Linked DNA regions of Homo sapiens. The protein of the gene in region 3 purifies or fractionates together with the protein of the main gene of each other region. This does not show direct contact. Each region holds a gene or a part of one and is shown on either strand. Other genes may lie near its edges.

Region 1 (7,898 bases), on a different chromosome or scaffold from region 3:
TGGCAGCTTTTTATATAAAGTTAAATATACACCTTCCATGTGATCCGGAAATCACACTTGTGGATATTTCAGAGAAATAAAAACTAGGTTCACATGGAAATCTGCACATGAATGTTTAAAGCAATTTCAATCATCACCAAAAATTGGAAATAACTCAAATGTCCTTCAGCTGATGAATGGATAAACAAATTATGATACAGCCATACAACAGAATACTACTAGCAATGAAAAGAATGGACTGTAAATACACATGATAACTTGGATGAATCTCAAACTATGCTGAGTGAAAGAAATCCACTCAAAAGCTTACATATTGTATAGACTTTATTTATGTGACATTCATAAAGAGGCAAAAGTGTATTGACAGGGAACACATCAGTGATAACCAGGAGTTAAAGGTAAGGGGAGGATGTGGCCATAAAGGGATAGCATATGGGAGATTTGCAGGGTGATCAAACTGGTCTATTTCCTGATTATAGTGGTGCCACAAATCTATACATATTCTAGAATTCACAGAACTGTATGCCCAAGAGTCTATTTTAATGTATGACAATTACAAATTTAAAATGAGACAGCTGGGGCCAGGCGCAGTGGCTCATGCCTGTAATTCCAGCACTTTGGGAGGCCGAGCCGGGTGGATCACAATGTCAGGAGTTCAAGAACAGTCTGGCCAAGATGGTGAAACCCCTTCTCTACTAAAAATACAAAAATTAGCCAGGCGCCATGGCGGGCGCTGTGGAAGTCGCCTATAATCCCAGCTACTCAGGAGGCTGAGGCAGGAGAATCTCTTGAACCCGGGAGGCAGAGGTTGCAGTGAGCCGAGATCGTGCCACTGCACTCCAGCCTGGGTGACAGAGTGAGACTCCATCTCAAAAAAAAAAAAAAAAAAAAAAGGCCGGGCACGGCGGCTCATCCCTGTAATCCCAGCACTTTGGGAGGCCGAGGAGGATGGATCACAAGGTCAGGAGATTGAGACTATCCTGGCTAACACAGTGAAACCCCGTCTCTACTAAAAATACAAAAAATTAGCCAGGCGTGGTGGCGGGCGCCTGTAGTCCCAGCTACTCGGGAGGCTGAGGCAGGAGAATGGCGTGAACCTGGGAGGTGGAGCTGGTAGTGAGCCAAGATCATGCCACTGCACTCCAGCCTAGGCGACAGAGTGAGACTCCATCTCAAAAAAAAAAAAAAAAAAAAGAGACAGGTGGAACTTTGAACACTGACTAGCTATCTGATGAAACTAAGTAATTGTTGTTAATTATTTTTACATGTGATAATGGTATTATGGTTATTTTTAAGTCCTTAGCTTTTAAAGATACACACTAAAATATTTAAGGACAAAGTTATAAAAAATATGGGATTTGCTTAAAAATAATACTGGAGGAAGGAACGGACTGGGGAAGAAATGAAAGAAAGGTGACCATGATTTAATAATTGTTGAAGAGGGTGATGGGTACGTCGGGCTTTATTATACTGTTCTGTCTACTTTTGTATATGTTTGATAGTTTCCATACTAAAAAGTTCAGCCAGGCACGGTGGCTTACGCCTGTAATCCCAGCACTTTGGGAGGCTGAGGCAGGCGGATCACGAAGTTAGGAGTTTGAGACCAGCCTGGCCAACATGGTGAAACCTCGTCTCTACTAAAAGTACAAAAATTAGCCGGGGATGGTGGCGCATGCCTGTAATCCCAGCTACTCAGGAGGCTGAGGCAGAAGAATCACTTGAACCTGGGAGGCAGAGGTTGCAGTGAGTCGAGATTGCGCCACTGCACTCCAGCCTGGGTGACAGAGCAAGACTCCGTCTCAAAAAAAAAAGAAAAGTTCAAAAAGGGTGTGAGGTTGTTAGTTTTCAACATCAAGCTGCCTGGTATGCAGTCTGAGTTTGCCATTTAGTAGGTGATCTTGGGCAAGTGACTTACTTGTCCTAAACTTCAGTTTCCCCCCACTCCATAAAATGAGACTACTAATGATAATATCTATCTCACAGTTGTTGTCAGGATTAAATGGATGTTGTCAGAATACGTGAAAAGCAATTTACCTAGTTCTTGCTATATTGCACATGCTCAATAAATGTTAATTTTTTTGTCATTATTACATCTCCTGGTCTGATTCCTCCATGCCATCTCCTCAGTATGAGCAAGTCTTCCTCCAAGCTTCTTTCTGGATATCTTATCTAAAAAGGGCCACTGAGTTTTACATCCTAATTCAGAATTATAAAACACAGGTTTGAAATTCTACTTCCCCCTCACACTACATTATATATATATATTTTTTTAAACAGGGTCTTGCTCTATTGCCCAGGCTGGAGTGCAGTGGCGCAATCATGGCTCACTGCAGCGTTGATCTCCCAGGCTCAAGCAATACCCCCACCTCAGCCTCCTTAGTATCTAGGACTACAGGCCAGCGCCATCGCACTTGGCTAATTTTTGTATTTTTGTAAAGACAGGATTTTGCCATGTTGCCCAGGCTGGTCTCAAACTCCTGGGCTCAAGTGATCCATCCAGCCTCCCAAAGTGATGGGATTACAGGCGTGAACCCAGCCTGTTCTATTCTTTATTGTATACCCAGGAGGAAATCCTAAACTTAAAAGATTGGGTTAAATAAAAATTCAGAAATGCCTATCTTTTCCTCCAAACTAGGAGTAATGTAAGATTACCATGAGTCGTGGTGGAGTGGAGTTCAATTCACCACAGAATCTGAGACAGGAAGACCTGCCAGGCCATCAGCCCCTTCCCACCACTCCTGCAGCATTCATTTTCAGGAGCAAAAGAGCCTTCCCACAATTACTGAGTCCAACACTTAGTTTCCAGGATAAGCCCACACCCAACCATTCTGTCCTGTGGTTCCCAGTGATACACTCACACTTGTTAGAATGTGCCACTTTGGGGTTCAGAAAATGCAATCACTGAGAGAAGCCCGAGTTGTAGTTATGCTCTCCTTTCGTTCCATACTTCCCCCTCTCTTGCCACATCTATCCACTAGAGGGAGGAAGGCCTAGAACCTCTTTAGCCAGAGTGGAGCAGTGGCAAGGATCAGTAGTGTGGCTTCTTAACCAAGCCAGCAGTGGGGATGTCAGAAGCACCGGAACATAATCGCCTCATTCTCTCGGAACAGAAAAGAGGAAGGGTCCCTTCCTTCCCCTTTTCAACCCTCTCTGCATGGATTGGCATGTCACCATGATCTGGTGCACTCACTTCCCTCAAGTCAGTGTGCAGGCTGCTTAAAAAATTCAGAGGAACATGTACTGGGGTCTTAGGAACATTTTCAGCCAGTGGAGAGGAAAAGGAAAACTAAGTATCTCTTGGATCATTCACAGAGTTCACCAAATACAACTGAAAACTGGGGGCTCTAATGTCCCTGCTGCCCTGATGGTATTAGTTTAAGATGTTGACACTGACATCTGCAGAGATCTCATCCATCACGGTATATCAAAGAGCAAATGTCATTCTAGTTGAGAAACTCATGTATGAGAAAGAATGGTCATCTTGGGAAATCTGTAGCTCCAGCGGCTCCTGATGTTTTTTCCTGCCTCCTCCTGTCCCATGCTTGTGCCCCAGGCAGAGCTCATTCCTAAAACCATAGCTGACCCTCTGTGCTGTCTTTTAAGTTATAATAGTAGCTGCCAACTGTTGAATATTTTGCTTTATGACAGGCACTACACTAAGCACGTTAACATATCTCACTGAAGCCTCACACCAAAGCTATGAACTAGATACAATCTATCTGTAGATAATAATATATATCCATCTGTAGATATCCATCTTATATCCATCTGTAGATGAAGAAACTCAGGTTGAGTAAGCTATCTAAGGTCACAGAGCCAATAAGTGCTAGAGGCAAGATTCTTATTCTGTACACTCTGCCTCCAAAGCCCACTTCTTTGACCCTAAGGGCACAAGAACCCAAATCAGGATGTGAAGCTTGGTCTTTGAAACCAAAGGAAGCTCCTGAATCATCCTGATAGGCTGACGGCTTGGCGCTGTAAACAAAATCAGTCTTTTGTCAAAAGGAAATGAAGTTGCCATGCCACTGTTCACTCCTGTAAGAGACTCCTCTGGGCTGTTCCATTCTCTTGCTGCAATTCAGCCGGTTGAAAAACTAAGGTGACTGCACAATGATTAACTTCAGGCCCTTCTGCTCTACTTTGAGCCTGTCTCTGGTTCATCGTTACACTCTCCGCTCAGCACCCGCAGACTCAAGAGATTTCCAATCCCCCAATTTAGCGTGGTTCTACCTTAGGCAGAACTCCCATCCAGTTCGGATATAAGCGGGTCGAAGTGGCAGGGACCACCTCGCTGGGAGGAGAGGCTGGAGCTGCGGTCTTAAAAGATCTTGGGGCCGGGCGCGATGGCTCACGCCTGTAATCCCAACACGTTGGGAGGCCGAAGCGGGTAGATTATTTGAGCCCTGGAGCTCGAGACCACCCTGACCAACACGGTGAAACCCAGTCTGTACTAAAAATACAAAAAAAAAATTAGCCGGGCGTGGTGGCGCACGCCAGTAGTCCCAGATACTCGGGAGGCGGAGCCAGGAGAACCACTTGAAACTGGGAGGCGGAGGTTGCAGTAACCGAGATCGCGCCACTGCACTCCAGCCTGGGCGACAGAGCGAGGCTCCGACTCAAAAAAAAAAAAAAAAGTATTGAATAAGCACCGGAGACCCTGAGCCACCGAGTAGCGGAGGGAAAGGGTGGCGCGCAGAGGGGCCCAGCCCCGCCTCTGCCGGACCCCGCCCCCAAAAGGCCCCGCCGCCGCCACCTCCTGCTAGGCCCCGCCCCCGACAGACACCCCCCCCCCCCCCCGCCAGGCCCCGCCTCCTGCCCCCCCAGCCGCGAGGTCCTGCCTCCTGCCCGGCCCCGCCCCCGGCCTGCCCCGCCCTCCGACCCGCCCCGCGGCGCATTGTGGGATCTGTCGGCTTGTCAGGTGGTGGAGGAAAAGGCGCTCCGTCATGGGGATCCAGACGGTAAGACCCTCATTCAGTATCCTCCACTGGGGGACCCCTCCCCATCTGGTTCTGGCCACTCAGCTCCGGACCAGGGGCTGTCGCTGCCGACCCCGCCCCGCAGGGCTCTGGGCCCACCGTGGATGCTGGGGTCCCGATCCCGCACATCCGGGCTCGGGACTCCGCCAGGTTACCCCTCTGCCCTTGGCATGCCTCCGCGCTGGAGCTCGGGATCGCCACCCCTGGGACGGTCACCACCCAAGCCCCGGGCTCTTACCCAGCCTGGCGGTCACGCTGCCTCCTCTACCCACAGAGCCCCGTCCTGCTGGCCTCCCTGGGGGTGGGGCTGGTCACTCTGCTCGGCCTGGCTGTGGGCTCCTACTTGGTTCGGAGGTCCCGCCGGCCTCAGGTCACTCTCCTGGACCCCAATGAAAAGTACCTGCTACGACTGCTAGACAAGACGGTAAGTTGGGGAAGAAAGGGCCAGGGTGAAGGAGGGGACCAGAGTGCTCCTGGCATGGAGGGTACAGCACCCACGGTGGTTGGGATGTCCAAGGGACGTGGCAGCGCCAGGCGCGCTTGGTGAAACACTTGTGTCCTCCACCCTCCAGACTGTGAGCCACAACACCAAGAGGTTCCGCTTTGCCCTGCCCACCGCCCACCACACTCTGGGGCTGCCTGTGGGTAAGGAAAGTGTGGAATGGGCTCCTTTCCCTGGTATCCTCAGAAGGTGACTCCCCTCCTGGGATCTCATGAAACACGCTGCTTCAACCGGTTTGCTCCACACACCATTCCCCTTCCCCCACTTGGCTCTGCATCCTCCAAGCTGTGAGGTGCCACTGGGCCCCTCTAGAGTGTGGCTTCCATGACCCCCATCCAGCTTTAACACTCAACAGTCTTGCCTCTTCCCTGCAGGATTTGCTAATTACTCCCTCTGAGCAAGCACTACTAACTTTTTCCCATTGCCCAGACCCTTTTGGCTCATCTGTCAAGGTCCTGGCAGTAACTGGCAGGAAACGCTGGAAATAAGTGTTTCCTCAACTGGGCGCTTATAAGAGATCCAACTGAGGGCTCAATGGGGCAAATCTTCCCTGCCTTGTAGCTCCTTGGGACCACAGCAGGAAGCAAGACATCTTGTTCTCTCAAATCTCTTTGAGTATTTTGAGGGATGCAGCACATCACAGACAACCCTTATGTAGCTCTCTGCACGGTCCCCAGGCAAACATATCTACCTCTCCACCCGAATTGATGGCAGCCTGGTCATCAGGCCATACACTCCTGTCACCAGTGATGAGGATCAAGGCTATGTGGATCTTGTCATCAAGGTAAGGGGCTAGGAAGGGACCCAGGGGCTGCTTACCCATTCTTTCTGGGATTTGTAGAAATTTCTAAGATTTGCCTGACAGCAGGAAATGGTATGTACTCTGTGGATGTGAAGAAAGTATGAGCTACTCAGGAGACTGAGGCAGGAGACTCACTTGAACCCAGGAGGCGGAGGTTGCAGTGAGCCAAGATTGCGCCACTGCACTCAAGCCTGGGCAGCAAGAGCAAAACTCTGACTCAAAAAAAAAAAAGAAAGAAAGAAAGTATGTAGACGGGGAAAAGATAGCACATATCTGATCCCTGCCCCAGCCTCAGGGAGGTTTAGTCAACATGGGGCTCAGAAACCAGTGACATTCCAAATAAGGTATTTTTCTCTCTGTCTTGTAAGGTCTACCTGAAGGGTGTGCACCCCAAATTTCCTGAGGGAGGGAAGATGTCTCAGTACCTGGATAGCCTGAAGGTTGGGGATGTGGTGGAGTTTCGGGGGCCAAGCGGGTTGCTCACTTACACTGGAAAAGGTAATGACCTGTCTTCTCCTTGAGCCTGTCTCCCACTTTATCAGTTCCCATAGTCCTCTTGGCACAGTATGGCTGTGTGTACACATGTGTATGCACGTAAGGGCCAGGGCCGCCCTTCCTTCTAAACATAGCGCTGATACAATAGAAAGGCATGTTTCTCAGCCCCATTTGCCACAGGAAGCAGTTCCTCCTCCACTTGAATTCCCTAGCCATGGCAGCTGTGGAGATTACTAAAGCAAACATGTGCCCCTCTTCCCCACCTTCAAAAATTTGCCCCCCTGGGTGAGCTGTGGAGTGAGCCAGAGATAGCTTTCAGCCCTTCCCATGGGAACAGCTGGGTGCATTAGCAAGTCCCTGGAGCTGCTGTGTGCCACTTGGGAAAATAGATTCACACCTGGCTCTGTGCCTGTCTCCTTCACCAGGGAGTGACACTTTGCCAGAAGCAGCTGATACATTGTGTGGCGCTGAACTGACTCACAGATAGCCCTGGCCCCATTGTCCCTCAACTATATTATTGTCAGGGCTGGCTCAACTCAAGCTTCCACCCAAGCTCCAGGATCAGATGTCATAGCAGCTGCTCAACTGGCCTCAGGCATATTTTCAACTCTGCATTTGTTTTCTAAGTTCGCTGTATTGACTTTATTCTTCCACTGCTCTCTTCACCTGACCTCTCAGGGCATTTTAACATTCAGCCCAACAAGAAATCTCCACCAGAACCCCGAGTGGCGAAGAAACTGGGAATGATTGCCGGCGGGACAGGTGCATTACACTGAGGGCCTTTCTCTCCCACCATTGTTGACTGTTGCCATGCAAATTCCTAGGTGACCCTCTGAAGACTGGTAACCATAGCCAAGCTGTTGTTCATCAGGGGATTTCCAGCAATGCTTAGAACTCCCTAGTATCTGAAAAACAAAATCATAAGCAGGTAGAAACCAAAAAAAATTTTAACTGATGGAATTAGAGAAACAAATTAAATGAGCTTTCCTCATTTTGAATGGATCTAATAGTTTTAGGTGAGAGAAGAGAGAAGCAGCTAGGAATGACTAGCTAGGAAGAAAGAAAATTAGCATTGGACACTACTGTGCATTAGACACTGTGTAGTCTAATACACTACTATATA
Region 2 (5,332 bases), about 16 Mb from region 3:
ACTAGCCTCTTATAATACTGGGGGAAACCAATAGCAAAAAAGGTCCATGGTTTTATGATACAAGTTACTGTATTCTATGGTGTTTTGGAAAACTGGCAAAGAAATTTCCAACTAAGTCAATTAAAGATTAAATGATAAACTTTAATTGCTGAAAAGATAACTCAAATTTAATAAACATAAATATGTTTTGGATCGCTAGCAGGCTTCTGCAGAGTTTATTCGATAATTCTAACTTACACAATAGTCAAGCCAACAGAAAGAAGAAAAATACAGCTTGGAGGCAGAGGTTGGTCTTGATCTTGGTTTTCCCACTTCTCCTTTCCTGGGAAGCCATACATGTCATGTCTTGGCATTCTGTTCCAGCAATAGGGATAAGGAAAAAAGATAACCTCTGTTCACCCTCAGATGTTTGTTGTTGCTTTGGTCATTCCAAACTGGATGTGGCAGCCATTAACTGGTAAGTAGAACATGTGATAGGGAGTTGGAAGAGACACTCAGAAGGCAGAGTTGTAAAAGAGTATTATTTATTAGAAAGAATAACAAAGTATATACATGTCATTTAACACATATGTCTGGGCTACTAGGACACTGTAATAGTGGATTTCTTCTGGAGCCTAAAACACCACGCTTCGATACTTGAGAATTTCTGCTCACAAAAAAGTTTAAGAGTTTTTTGTAAAAATTAAAATGTAGGCCGGGTGCAGTGGCTCACGCCTGTAATCCCAGCACTTTGGGAGGCCGAGGCGGGCGGATCATGAGGTCAAGCGATTGAGACCATCCTGGCCAACATGGTGAAACCCCGTCTCTACTAAAAATACAAAAATACAGGCATGCCAGCATGTGCCTGTAATCCCAACCACTCCTGCTGAGACAGGAGAATTGCTTAAACCTGGGAGGCGGAGGTTGCAGTGAGTCGAGATCGTGCCACTGCCCTCCAGCCTGGCAACGGAGCGAGACTTCGCCTCAAAAAACAAAACAAAAAATTAAAAATAAAAATCCTCAATAAAATACTGGCGAACCAAATCCAGCAGCACATCAAAAAGCTTATCCACCATGTTCAAGTGGGCTTCATCCCTGGGATGCAAGGCTGGTTCAATATACGCAAATCAATCAATGTAATCCAGCATATAAACAGAACCAAAGACAAAAACCACATGATTATCTCAATAGATGCAGAAAAGGCCTTTGACAAAATTCAACAACGCTTCATGCTAAAAACTCTCAATAAATCAGGTATTGATGGGACGTATCTCAAAATAATAAGAGCTATCTATGACAAACCCACAGCCAATATCATACTGAATGGGCAAAAACTGGAAGCATTCCCTTTGAAAACTGGCACAAGACAGGGATGCCCTCTCTCACCACTCCTATTCAACATAGTGTTGGAAGTTCTGGCCAGGGCAATTAGGCAGGAGAAGGAAGTAAAAAGTATTCAATTAGGAAAAGAGGAAGTCAAATTGTCCCTGTTTGCAGATGACATGATTGTATATCTAGAAAACCCCATTGTCTCAGCCCAAAATCTCCTTAAGCTGATAAGCAACTTCAGCAAAGTCTCAGGATACAAAATCAATGTACAAAAATCACAAGCATTCTTATACACCAATAACAGACAAACAGAGAGCCAAATCATGAGTGAACTCCCATTCACAATTGCTTCAAAGAGAACAAAATACCTAGGAATCCAACTTACAAGGGACGTGAAGGACCTCTTCAAGGAGAACTACAAACCACTGCTCAATGAAATAAAAGAGGATACAAACAAATGGAAGAACATTCCATGCTCATGGATAGGAAGAATCAATATCGTGAAAATGGCCATACTGCCCAAGGTAATTTATAGATTCAATGCCATCCCCATCAAGCTACCAATGACTTTCTTCACAGAATTGGAAAAAACTACTTTAAAGTTCATATGGAACCAAAAAAGAGCCCGCATCGCCAAGTCAATCCTAAGCCAAAAGAACAAAGCTGGAGGCATCATGCTACCTGACTTCAAACTATACTACAAGGCTACAATAACCAAAACAGCATGGTACTGGTACCAAAACAGAGATATAGATCAATGGAACACAAAAGAGCCCTCAGAAATAACGCCGCATGTCTACAGCTATCTGATCTTTGACAAACCTGAGAAAAACAAGCAATGGGGAAAGGATTCCCTATTGAATAAATGGTGCTGGGAAAACTGGCTAGCCATATGTAGAAAGCTGAAACTGGATCCCTTCCTTACACCTTATACAAAAATTATTTCAAGATGGATTAAAGACTTACATGTCAGACCTAAAACCATAAAAACCCTAGAAGAAAACCTAGGCATTACCATTCAGGACATAGGCATGGGCAAGGACTTCATGTCTAAAACACCAAAAGCAATGGCAACAAAAGACAAAATTGACAAATGGGATCTAATTCAACTCAAGAGCTTCTGCACAGCAAAAGAAACTACCATCAGAGTGAACAGGCAACTTACAAAATGGCAGAAAATTTTCGCAACCTACTCATCTGACAAAGGGCTAATATCCAGAATCTACAATGAACTCAAACAAATTTACAAGAAAAAAACAAACAACCCCATCAAAAAGTGGGCAAAGGACATGAACAGACACTTCTCAAAAGAAGACATTTATGCAGCCAAAAAACACATGAAAAAATGCTCACCATCACTGACCATCAGAGAAATGCAAATCAAAACCACAATGAGATACCATCTCACACCAGTTAGAATGGCGATCATTAAAAAGTCAGGAAACAACAGGTGCTGGAGAGGATGTGGAGAAATAGGAACACTTTTACACTGTTGGTGGGACTGTAAACTAGTTCAACCATTGTGGAAGTCAGTGTGGCGATTCCTCAGGAATCTAGAACTAGAAATACCATTTGACCCAGCCATCCCATTACTGGGTATATACTCAAAGGACTATAAATCATGCTGCTATAAAGACACATGCACACGTATGTTTATTGCAGCACTATTCACAATAGCAAAGACTTGGAACCAACCCAAATGTCCAACAATGATAGACTGGATTAAGAAAATGTGGCACATATACACCATGGAATACTATGCAGCCATAAAAAAGGATGAGTTCATGTCCTTTGTAGGGACATGGATGAAATTGGAAATCATCATTCTCAGTAAACTATCGCAAGGACAAAAAACCAAACACCACATGTTCTCACTCATAGATGGGAATTGAACAATGAGAACACATGGACACAGGAAGGGGAACATCACACTCTGGGGACTGTTGTGGGGTGGGGGGAGGGGAGAGGGATAGCATTAGGAGATATACCTAATGCTAAATGACGAGTTAATGGGTGCAGCACACTAGCATGGCACATGTATACATATGTAACTAACCTGCACATTGTACACATGTACCCTAAAACTTAAAGTATAATAACAATAAAATAAAAGAAAAAAATTAAAAAATTAAAATGTAGTAAATAAAGGTCTATTAAAAAATACTGAACAAAAGTGAAGTTCTGGTAGTATCAGTGACCGTAGGTATTGTAAAATATCCTTTTTGGAAAAATAGTGAATCAACCAAACATTGAAAATACATTTTCTCCTAAAATACACAAGTGTATAGTGGAAATACTGTGTATGTATCCAAATAACAGCAGTATTCTTTTATCAGAAGTGAATAGCTTTATAAATTATAATGTATACATCAACCCATGCTCTTTGTGCACAGTAAGTATACTTTTGGAGTCAAAGAACTTCAAAGTACAACCAGCTCTAGATCTTTTTTGTTAGTGGTCTATATGAAGACCATGAGTAGATGAAGTGGGTTTACTTGATAAATATTTTGATGGCCTATTATGTCCCAGGCATTGTGTTAGGCACTAGCAATGCAATTATAGAATGACAGACATGTTCTCTTCCCTTGTGAAGCCTATTGATTAATTTAATAATTAATCAATTATTAAAGCAGCAGCTGACAAATAAGCTATTGCAATATAGCATGAGAAGTGCTGACCTGGAAAGCACAGGGTTGCACTTGAGAAACCAAGCCATAATGAAGAACCAAAACTGGATTTAAAGGAGTCAGAGAAGTTTCCCTGGAGGACATGATGTCTCACTTGAGGTCTTAAGGCTGTGTAGATATTGGTCAGTCTGGTAGGGAGCAGTTAAAGAAGTAAAGCATGTACAAAGTTCTGGAAGTAAGAAAGCATGTCTCTTTAAAGGAACTGGGGAAAAGTTCAGTATAGTTGAATCCTGGAAATGGAGAGTGGCAGTATAGAGAGATGAGGTACGCAAGAACCAGTACATGAAGAGCCTTGTAAAACATATTAAGGCATAAGGACTTTATCATAACGAAAACAGAAAGCCATTGAAAAGATTTAGGTCAAGGATATCAGAATCATGTTAGAATAATTCTTTAGAAAGATCTGTAACTACAAAGTGGAAAATGAAGGTAGGGAGGCTAATCAGGATTCTCAGCATGCCAGGTGAGATGATGGCAGAATGGACTCAGTGATGCTAGGAATGAATAGAAGTAGAAAGATTATATTTTTAGAAGTAAAATAGATTTGGTACTTGGTTACATGTAGGTAGTGTAGGAAACACAGAGTCAAGGATGTCATCTACAACTCCTGCTTGAGCAGTTAGGGAAAGGATTGTGTCATTTGCTGAGATGGGAAACAGGAATTAAAGATTTGGGAGAAGGATGCTGCGCTCGTTTGGACACGCTGAGTCTTGGGTACTATGGGATAACCAAATGCAAATAAATATTGGGCAAGCAATTGAATGTAGGAGTCTTAAATTCTGTACAGTGCTCTGATCTAGAGATGCAAATTGGGGAGCTGTTAGGATGCAAATGGTAACTCTGCAGCCACGGGAGTGGTGACATTGCCGAGCTGCTGTGTGGAGTGATGTGAGAGCAGGCTGTTGGACTGAACTCCAACGCATACCAAAAATTAAATGTTGGGCAGAGAGACAAGAGTTGCAAATGACCTCTAATCCACCAATACTCCTGAAGTCATAGTTTGTAAATAAGTTTATATTCTTCTCGGCCAACTCTATTACCAGGCATGAAAGTCTTTTTTTTTTTTTTTTGAGATGGAGTTTCGCTCTTGTTGCCCAGATTGAGTGCAAGGGCATAATCTTGGCTCACTGCAAACTTTGGCTTCCGGGTTCAAGCGACTCTCCTGCCTCAGCCTCCTGAGTAGCTGAGATTACAGGCATGCACCACCACGCCTAGCTAATTTTGTATTTTTTTTTTTTTTTTTTTAGTAGAGACGGGGTTTCTCCATGTTGGTCAGGCTAGTCTCGAACTCCCGACCTCAGGTGATCCGCCCGCTTCGGCCTCCCAAAGTGCTGTCC
Region 3 (7,029 bases):
CAAATGTCTCAATAGGCTCTGAGGCCCGTTGCTATACTTTTTAAGTACTTACGTCTGCTTTTTAGTTTTTCTGACAGACTGTTTTCCTCGCAGACTGTTCTGCATCATGTTTTTGAAATCTGGCAGCAACAGTTGTTTTATTGTTGTTGCTGTCACCATACTCTTTCCACCAGCTTTAATTTGGGGCTTCTTGTTTGTTATAGCTTTGATAACCCTGGATCTATGCTTAATGTAACTGTGTGTCATTACAACCTGGTAGTTCTGACTGAGAGCTAAATGTCTTTCCTACTAGTTAAGTGCATAAGCTTGAGTGCGTGGACTTCATGACATTTGGTTTTCTCAGAACTCAGAAATTCTTTTTTTTTTTTTTTTTTTTTGAGACGGAGTCTCGCTCTGTCACCCAGGCTGGAGTGCAGTGGCGCAATCTCGGCTCACTGCAAGCTCCGCCTCCCGGGTTCACGCCATTCTTCTGCCTCAGCCTCCCGAGTAGAGTAGCTGGGACTACAGGCGCCCGTCACCACGCCGGGCTAATTTTTTTTGTATTTTTAGTAGAGACGGGGTTTCACCGTGTTAGCCAGGATGGTCTCGATCTCCTGACCTCGTGATCCGCCCGCCTCGGCCTCCCAAAGTGCTGGGATTACAGGTGTGAGCCACCGTGCCCGGCCTCAGAATTCTTTTTGCTTCGTCCTGGTTTTTAGCTATTTTCCAGATAATTGCAGGATCCCTGAGTTATGTTTAAATGTGGTCTTCTGGTACATTCTGTCACCTTGTACAAAAGAGAATTTTTTTTCATACTCTTAGCTTTGATTTCATCAAAGTGATTGATGCTCATTAGGATCTGTCCAGATTTAGGTGTTCCTGCCAATAATCAATACCTCTGATTGAGGTTCTAGATTTAGCATTTTAAAAACAAAAAGGGAGTATTTTGAAAATAATAAGTATATGTCTTTAAAAACAAGTATATTCCCTAGTAAAGTGAACCTATGTACAACTAGTTGGCAGGACCTGTTCACTTTGAATATATTGCACAAACATGTCTAGGTCACCACCAACTTTTCCTCACTAACAAGGTTGATTATTATTTGCTGGTCTGGTGGAGCTGGCCTCTTGAATCCTCAGTGCTCCCCACTGACCCCCTCTATGGAGCTTTATTTAAGACAACAGGGGTTGGAAAACATTTCCTGTAAAGTCCCAGATTGTAAATATTTTAGGCTTGTTTAGGGCAAGGGGAAAAATCAAGGATATTATATAGGTGTTTAGATAACCAGAAAACAAATTCCACAAAATTTTTTAGTAATGACATTTAAAATATAATAATAAGTATAATATAGGTTTGTTAATGAAAGGGATAGAATTTGGTGGGGGAGGGGATGACATTTTCCTTAATTGCACTTCAGAGTTGGTGTTTTCTGTCATCAAACTGATAAATATTCATCTGTAAAAACCGTTTGTAGCTCACGTTACTGATCCAAGTTACAAATGATTTCAAAATTTTTTTGCAACCTTAGCCTAGTCTCTGTAAAATTTGTATTATTAGGGCATCTGTCCTTATAGGGCATATCTTTATAGAATATTTTCAGTTTATTTCTGTAACTGTTATACCACTACACTGTTCTGTCACTGAGCACACACTTCTTTCTTTTCTCTCTCTTATTTATTTATTTATTTTTTTGAGACAGACTGTCTGTTGCCCAGGCTGGAGTGCAGTGGCACAATCTCTGCTCACTGCAACCTCTGCCTCCCAGGTTCAAGTGATTCTCCTGCCTCAGCCTCCTAAGTAGCTGGGGCTACAGGCATCCACCACCACGCCTGGCTAATTTTTGTATTTTTAGTAGAGACAGGGTTTCACCATGTTGGCCAGGCTGATCTTGAACTCCTGACCTCAAGCAGTCTGCCCGGCTTTGGCCTCCCAAAGTGCTGGGATTACAGGCATGAGCCACTGCGCCTGGCCGTTGTTAAATTTTATCTAACTCATTTTGCTGATCAGTTCACTCCACTATATTGTGTATTCCTTTTAGTTTTTAAGTCACAAGTTTGACAAGCATGCTATCATTTGGAGTATTTCAGTTTGTAATAGAAATGTTGAACAGGATAAAACTGTAGTACTACAGTTTTACTGGAAGGAAAATCTCAAATGGGGAACTAATGCCAGAATGCAGCAGTGATTATAGAAAGGAATTTTAAAAGTTAAGCAAATCATCTTAGAAATGCAGCATTCCTTTTTGTACCCGGTCATACAAGAAAGAAGCCTCTGGAAATTCAATCAGATATGTGACATATTTGTCTGAATCATCAAAGCTAAGAAAATGTAATAAATATGGTCACTTGATTGAAGGACAGTTGCATTCTCCTATATTTCTACTGTCTCCAACAAGGTAGAAAGATAATTTTTTTCATTGAAGTTATACTTTTTTAATTAAAAAAGGAAAAAGTAAATCTTTTTATTTTGAAAAATGTTAAATCTATAGAAAAGATGAAAAAATCACGAACACCTGTATATCCTGTCACTAACTGTTAGCCTTTTCCACACTGCCGAAATCTTTCGGCAGGTACATACACACCCACACGCACCTCTTTTGCCAAACTACCCAAAAGTAGGTTGCAGACATTGTGATACTTTGTCCCAAGTACTTAATTGCAGCTTGCACCTCCCAAGAACAAAGAAATTCTTTTACGCAACTCCATCACTGTTACAACTAGAAATACAATATTAATTCAAGAATATCATGCAATACATAGTTAATACTCAAGTTTTTCCAATTGTTCCAAAAATATACCTTATATTCTTTAAAAAAACAAAAATAAAAAAAACCAGGAGCCATATGCAGGAGATAATCAATGTTTATGCATTTGTTGTTAGGTCTTTTTAGACTCCCCTAACCTAAAACTATCCTTTGACCTATCTCTTTCTTGTCACCATTAAAATCTTTGAAGAGTCTAGGTCAGGTTTTCTGCAGAACATCTAATATTCTGGATTTATGGACTGTTTATTTCAAAATAGATCCTGGTCAAACATTTCTGGCAAGAATATCACATGGGTTATGTTGAGAACACCCCACTACATTACATCAAAAGGTACAGGATGCCAGGACATCCCACTACTGGGAATGCCAAACATGACCACTTGTTAAGAGGGTGACTGCTATATCTTTCAATTATAAAGGTTCATGTTCCATTTTGTAATTAGTAAGCAGACACTGGGGTGACATTTGAGGGCCTTTGACTATCCTCTCCTTAACAATCTTCCAGTCAGTTGTTTTAGCATCCATTGATGATCCTTCCATTATAGCATAGAAAGTGGCCATTAAATTATTATTTTCTAATTTTATCCTTTCAATATTTAATAATTGTCATTTGTCATTAAAAGAAGAAAGATTTTGTCTGAGCTCTAAATCAGTCACTCAAACAATTTTATTATTTTTTTAGAATCAAATAATTTACTTCTTGATTCCCTAACTTAGATATATCTGGTTTTTTATTCAAATTCTAGTATATTGATTTCAAAGTATGGGCATCTAGGGTTCTGGTATTTTTCTCAGGTAAGCTACATTATTTTTATTTTTTTCTTATCTCCTTTGACTCAGAAGAGGTTTGTTTATATGGAATGACATATATAGTGTTAAACACTTTAAATATATTAGGAACTAATATGTTTGGCATATAATACATCTAAAAACATTGTTTCTCTTCTTCCTTTCCTCTTTACCACTCCCAACCATATCACGTTTGAAAAAAAAAAGTTTCTTTTTTGAAGACTAATTTGACAGTTCTAAGGCTTATTTTTAAGAAATTAATCTTGGAACATAAGAAGGCATTTTGTCTGTTCTGCATGTCTTGATTATTTGAAAAGATAATGCTCACGTTAAGGTGAACTTGTTAACTCTTTCTATTGTGTGTGTGAAAATGTAATGAGTATATAGACTCATGTGTCACCTAATGGAGGTAAGATATCTACTTAGTATACATGCCTTTGGTCCAGATCAGACGCTTATCCAAAAGATCACTTAAGTCTGGGGAGTCATGGTCTCTCTTTGGTCTGCTGATAAAATTTATCTGGTAACCCATTTAGGAGGTCCCAGGGCTGAAAATGTCTTAGGTTACGTTAAACCTTCCTGGTATCATTCCTGTTTTCTGAAGTAGGAAGCCAAAAGAGCTTCCTGCAGCAATTTAATTTGCTGTCATCAAGTAGAGCATGTTATAATGATGACAGTTATTATTTTTTAGTACTTAGTAGCTACGGGGGATCTAGTTGTAGCTAGTTTATTTGATTTATCTTGACGTAATTTATTCATTTTTACAAATTGCAACACTCTTGATTAATAAATCTGTGCATGTCAATGGTAGCAAAATAATTGCCTTGCAAAAAGTTTCCTCTTTTAAAACTATACTGTTTCCCAAATTTCTGTATACAATAATGCATATATACAATCCATGGAAATTCAAAAAAATAATGCTTATTCATAGATAAATTAGTGTAGCAGAATCAATATTGGTAAATTCTACCTCTATCACATCATTTTCATAACTAGAGAATAAAACTGTTGACACTTAAGATCCACATGTAATGAGATAAATTTATACTACTTTTTTCTTCTTTACACCTAGAGAATGGGACATTTTAGAGACTGAAGAGCATTATAAGAGCCGATGGAGATCTATTAGGATTTTATATCTTACTATGTTTCTCAGCAGTGTAGGTAAGTATTAGAAATACATAATTTTAACAATTCAGATCAGATGTCATATTTTAACTTCATTTACTTCATTTACTTTCATTGCCTCTGAAATTATCTTTATTGTGCTAAAAAATACGTGACATAAATTTACCGTGTTACCATATCTAAGTTCAATAGCCTTAAGTATATCCACATTGTTGTGCAACCAATCCCTAGAACATTTTCATCTTGCAAAAGAGAAACTCTATACCCATTAAACAACTCCCTATTTTCCCATCCCCCAAGCCCTAGCAAACTTTGTTTCTTGGAATTTGACTATTCTAGATAGCTCATATAAATGGAATTATATAGTATTTTTTTTCTTGTGATGAGATTATTTCACTCAATGTCCTCAAGTTGGTTCATGTTGCACTTGTGATAATTTCCTTTTATTTAAAGGCTGTATAGTTCATTATATGTATTCTAGGGTAGGAGAAATTTTTCCTCTATTCTCCTATGTGCTTAAGGCTTGTGAATTAAGCTGACAAAAGAAAGACTAACAGTTAAAAAAGTATACAAATTTATTTGATGTTAATATTTTTTAATGAAAAGAAACAAATAACATTAAGGAATGTACATACAAACGAAACTAGACAACTACTAAGAGTCCCTAACACTTTCATGTACTCACAAAAGTATTTCATCTTTTTTTTTTTTTTTTTTTGAGACGGAGTTTCACTCTTGTTGCCCAGGCTGGAGTGCAATGGCACGATCTCAGCTCACTGCAACCTCCACCTCCCAGATTCAAGCGATTCGCCTGCCCCAGCCTGCCAAGTATCTGGGATTACAGGCATGTGCCACCACCCCTGGCTAATTTTGTATTTTTAGTAGAGACGGGATGTCTCCATGTTGGTCAGGCTGGTCTCGAACTCCCAACCTCAGGTGATCTGCCCACCTCGGCCTCCCAAAGTGCTGCGATTACAGGCGTGAGTCACCGCCCCCAGTTAAAAATATTTCATCTTTTTTCTTTTTTTTTTTTTTTCAAGACGGAGTTTCGCACTGTCGCCCAGGCTGGAGTGCAGTGGCGCGATCTCGGCTCACTGCAAGCTCCGCCTCCCAGGTTCGCGTGATTCTCCTGCCTCAGCCTCCCGAGTAGCTGGGACTACAGACACCCGCCACCACGCTAATTGTTTTATATTTTTAGTAGAGACGGGGTTTCACTGTGTTAGCCGGGATGTCTTGATCTCCTGACCTCGTGATCTGCCAGACTCAGCCTCCCAAAGTGCTGGAATTACAGGCCTGAGCCACCGCACCTGGCCAAAAGTATTTCATCTTTACAGCCATCAGTCAATTATTTGTTCTGCTACTTCTTGAAGATGTGCAAAATTTCTTTTTAAAAAAATTTTATTATTTATTATTATTTATTCATTTTTTGAGGTGGAGTCGCCCAGGCTGGAGTGCAGTGGTGTGATCTCGGCTTACTGCAACCTCTGCCTCCTGGGTTCGAGCAATTCTTGTGCCTTAGCCTCCCGAGTAGCTGGGACTACAGGCGCACGCTATCACGCCCAGCTAATTTTTTTGTATCTTTAGTAGAGATGGGGTTTCACGGCGTTAGCCAGGATGGTCTCGATCTCGTGACCTCATGATCTGCCCGCCTCAGCCTCCCAAAGTGCTGGGATTACAGGCGTGAGCCACCCCGCCTGGCCAGTGCAAAATTTCTTAAGTTTAAATATACAGTCTTAATTATACCTGTGTCTTAATGTCCCAAGACAGATTGTAGGTAACAGAATCTCAATTGTGCCTCAAAGAATTAACAACAAAACAAAATTCAATCTATTCTCTGCATTCAGGCAGAAAGGGGGAGAGCAGAGAACCCTTCCTGCATCTGCTATTTCTCGGTTGCCTTCAGTTTGAGATAATTAATATGGCAAAACAGCAGATTTTTGGAGTAGCATACTCTGATTGCCTTCAGTATATACCACATTTTTTTTTTTTTTTTTTTTGAGACAAAGTCTCGCTCTGTCGTCCAAGCTGGAGTGCAGTGGTGTGATCTTGGCTCACTGAAACCTCCGCCTGCGGGGTTCAAGCAATTCTCTGCCTCAGCCTCCCAGGTAGCTGGGATTACAGTCACCCACCACCATGCCCGGCTAATTTTTGTATTTTTAGTAGAGATGGGGTTTCACCATCTTGGCCAGGCTGGTCTTGAACTCCTGACCTCGTGATCCACCGGCCTCAGCCTCCCAAAGTGCTAGGATTACAGCCTAGCCTGGCCTACCACATTTTGTTTAGCCATTTATCTGTCGATGGACATTTGGGTTGCTTCCACCTCTTGGCTGTTGTGAATAGTGCTGCTGTCAATATGGGTGTGCAAATA

What was found.
Region 1: the proteins of MFSD8 (region 3) and CYB5R1 purify together in Homo sapiens (affinity purification with mass spectrometry; 3 studies listed by BioGRID and IntAct, with this or other methods). This does not show direct contact.
Region 2: the proteins of MFSD8 (region 3) and FAM241A purify together in Homo sapiens (affinity purification with mass spectrometry; 2 studies listed by BioGRID and IntAct, with this or other methods). This does not show direct contact.

Annotation. Positions count from the first base shown.
Region 1 is NC_000001.11:202,964,251-202,972,148, reverse strand, and holds the start of CYB5R1 (NADH-cytochrome b5 reductase 1), read left to right. Parts: upstream 1-4,891; 5' UTR 4,892-4,943; coding exon 4,944-4,958; intron 4,959-5,250; coding exon 5,251-5,400; intron 5,401-5,548; coding exon 5,549-5,621; intron 5,622-6,155; coding exon 6,156-6,262; intron 6,263-6,648; coding exon 6,649-6,778; intron 6,779-7,453; coding exon 7,454-7,537; intron 7,538-7,898. UniProt on the Homo sapiens protein: NADH-cytochrome b5 reductases are involved in desaturation and elongation of fatty acids, cholesterol biosynthesis, drug metabolism, and, in erythrocyte, methemoglobin reduction.
Region 2 is NC_000004.12:112,190,432-112,195,763, reverse strand, and holds the end of FAM241A (uncharacterized protein FAM241A), read right to left. Parts: 3' UTR 508-5,332; downstream 1-507.
Region 3 is NC_000004.12:127,955,169-127,962,197, reverse strand, and holds part of MFSD8 (major facilitator superfamily domain-containing protein 8), read left to right. Parts: intron 1-4,605; coding exon 4,606-4,697; intron 4,698-7,029. UniProt on the Homo sapiens protein: Outward-rectifying chloride channel involved in endolysosomal chloride homeostasis, membrane fusion and function. Conducts chloride currents up to hundreds of picoamperes.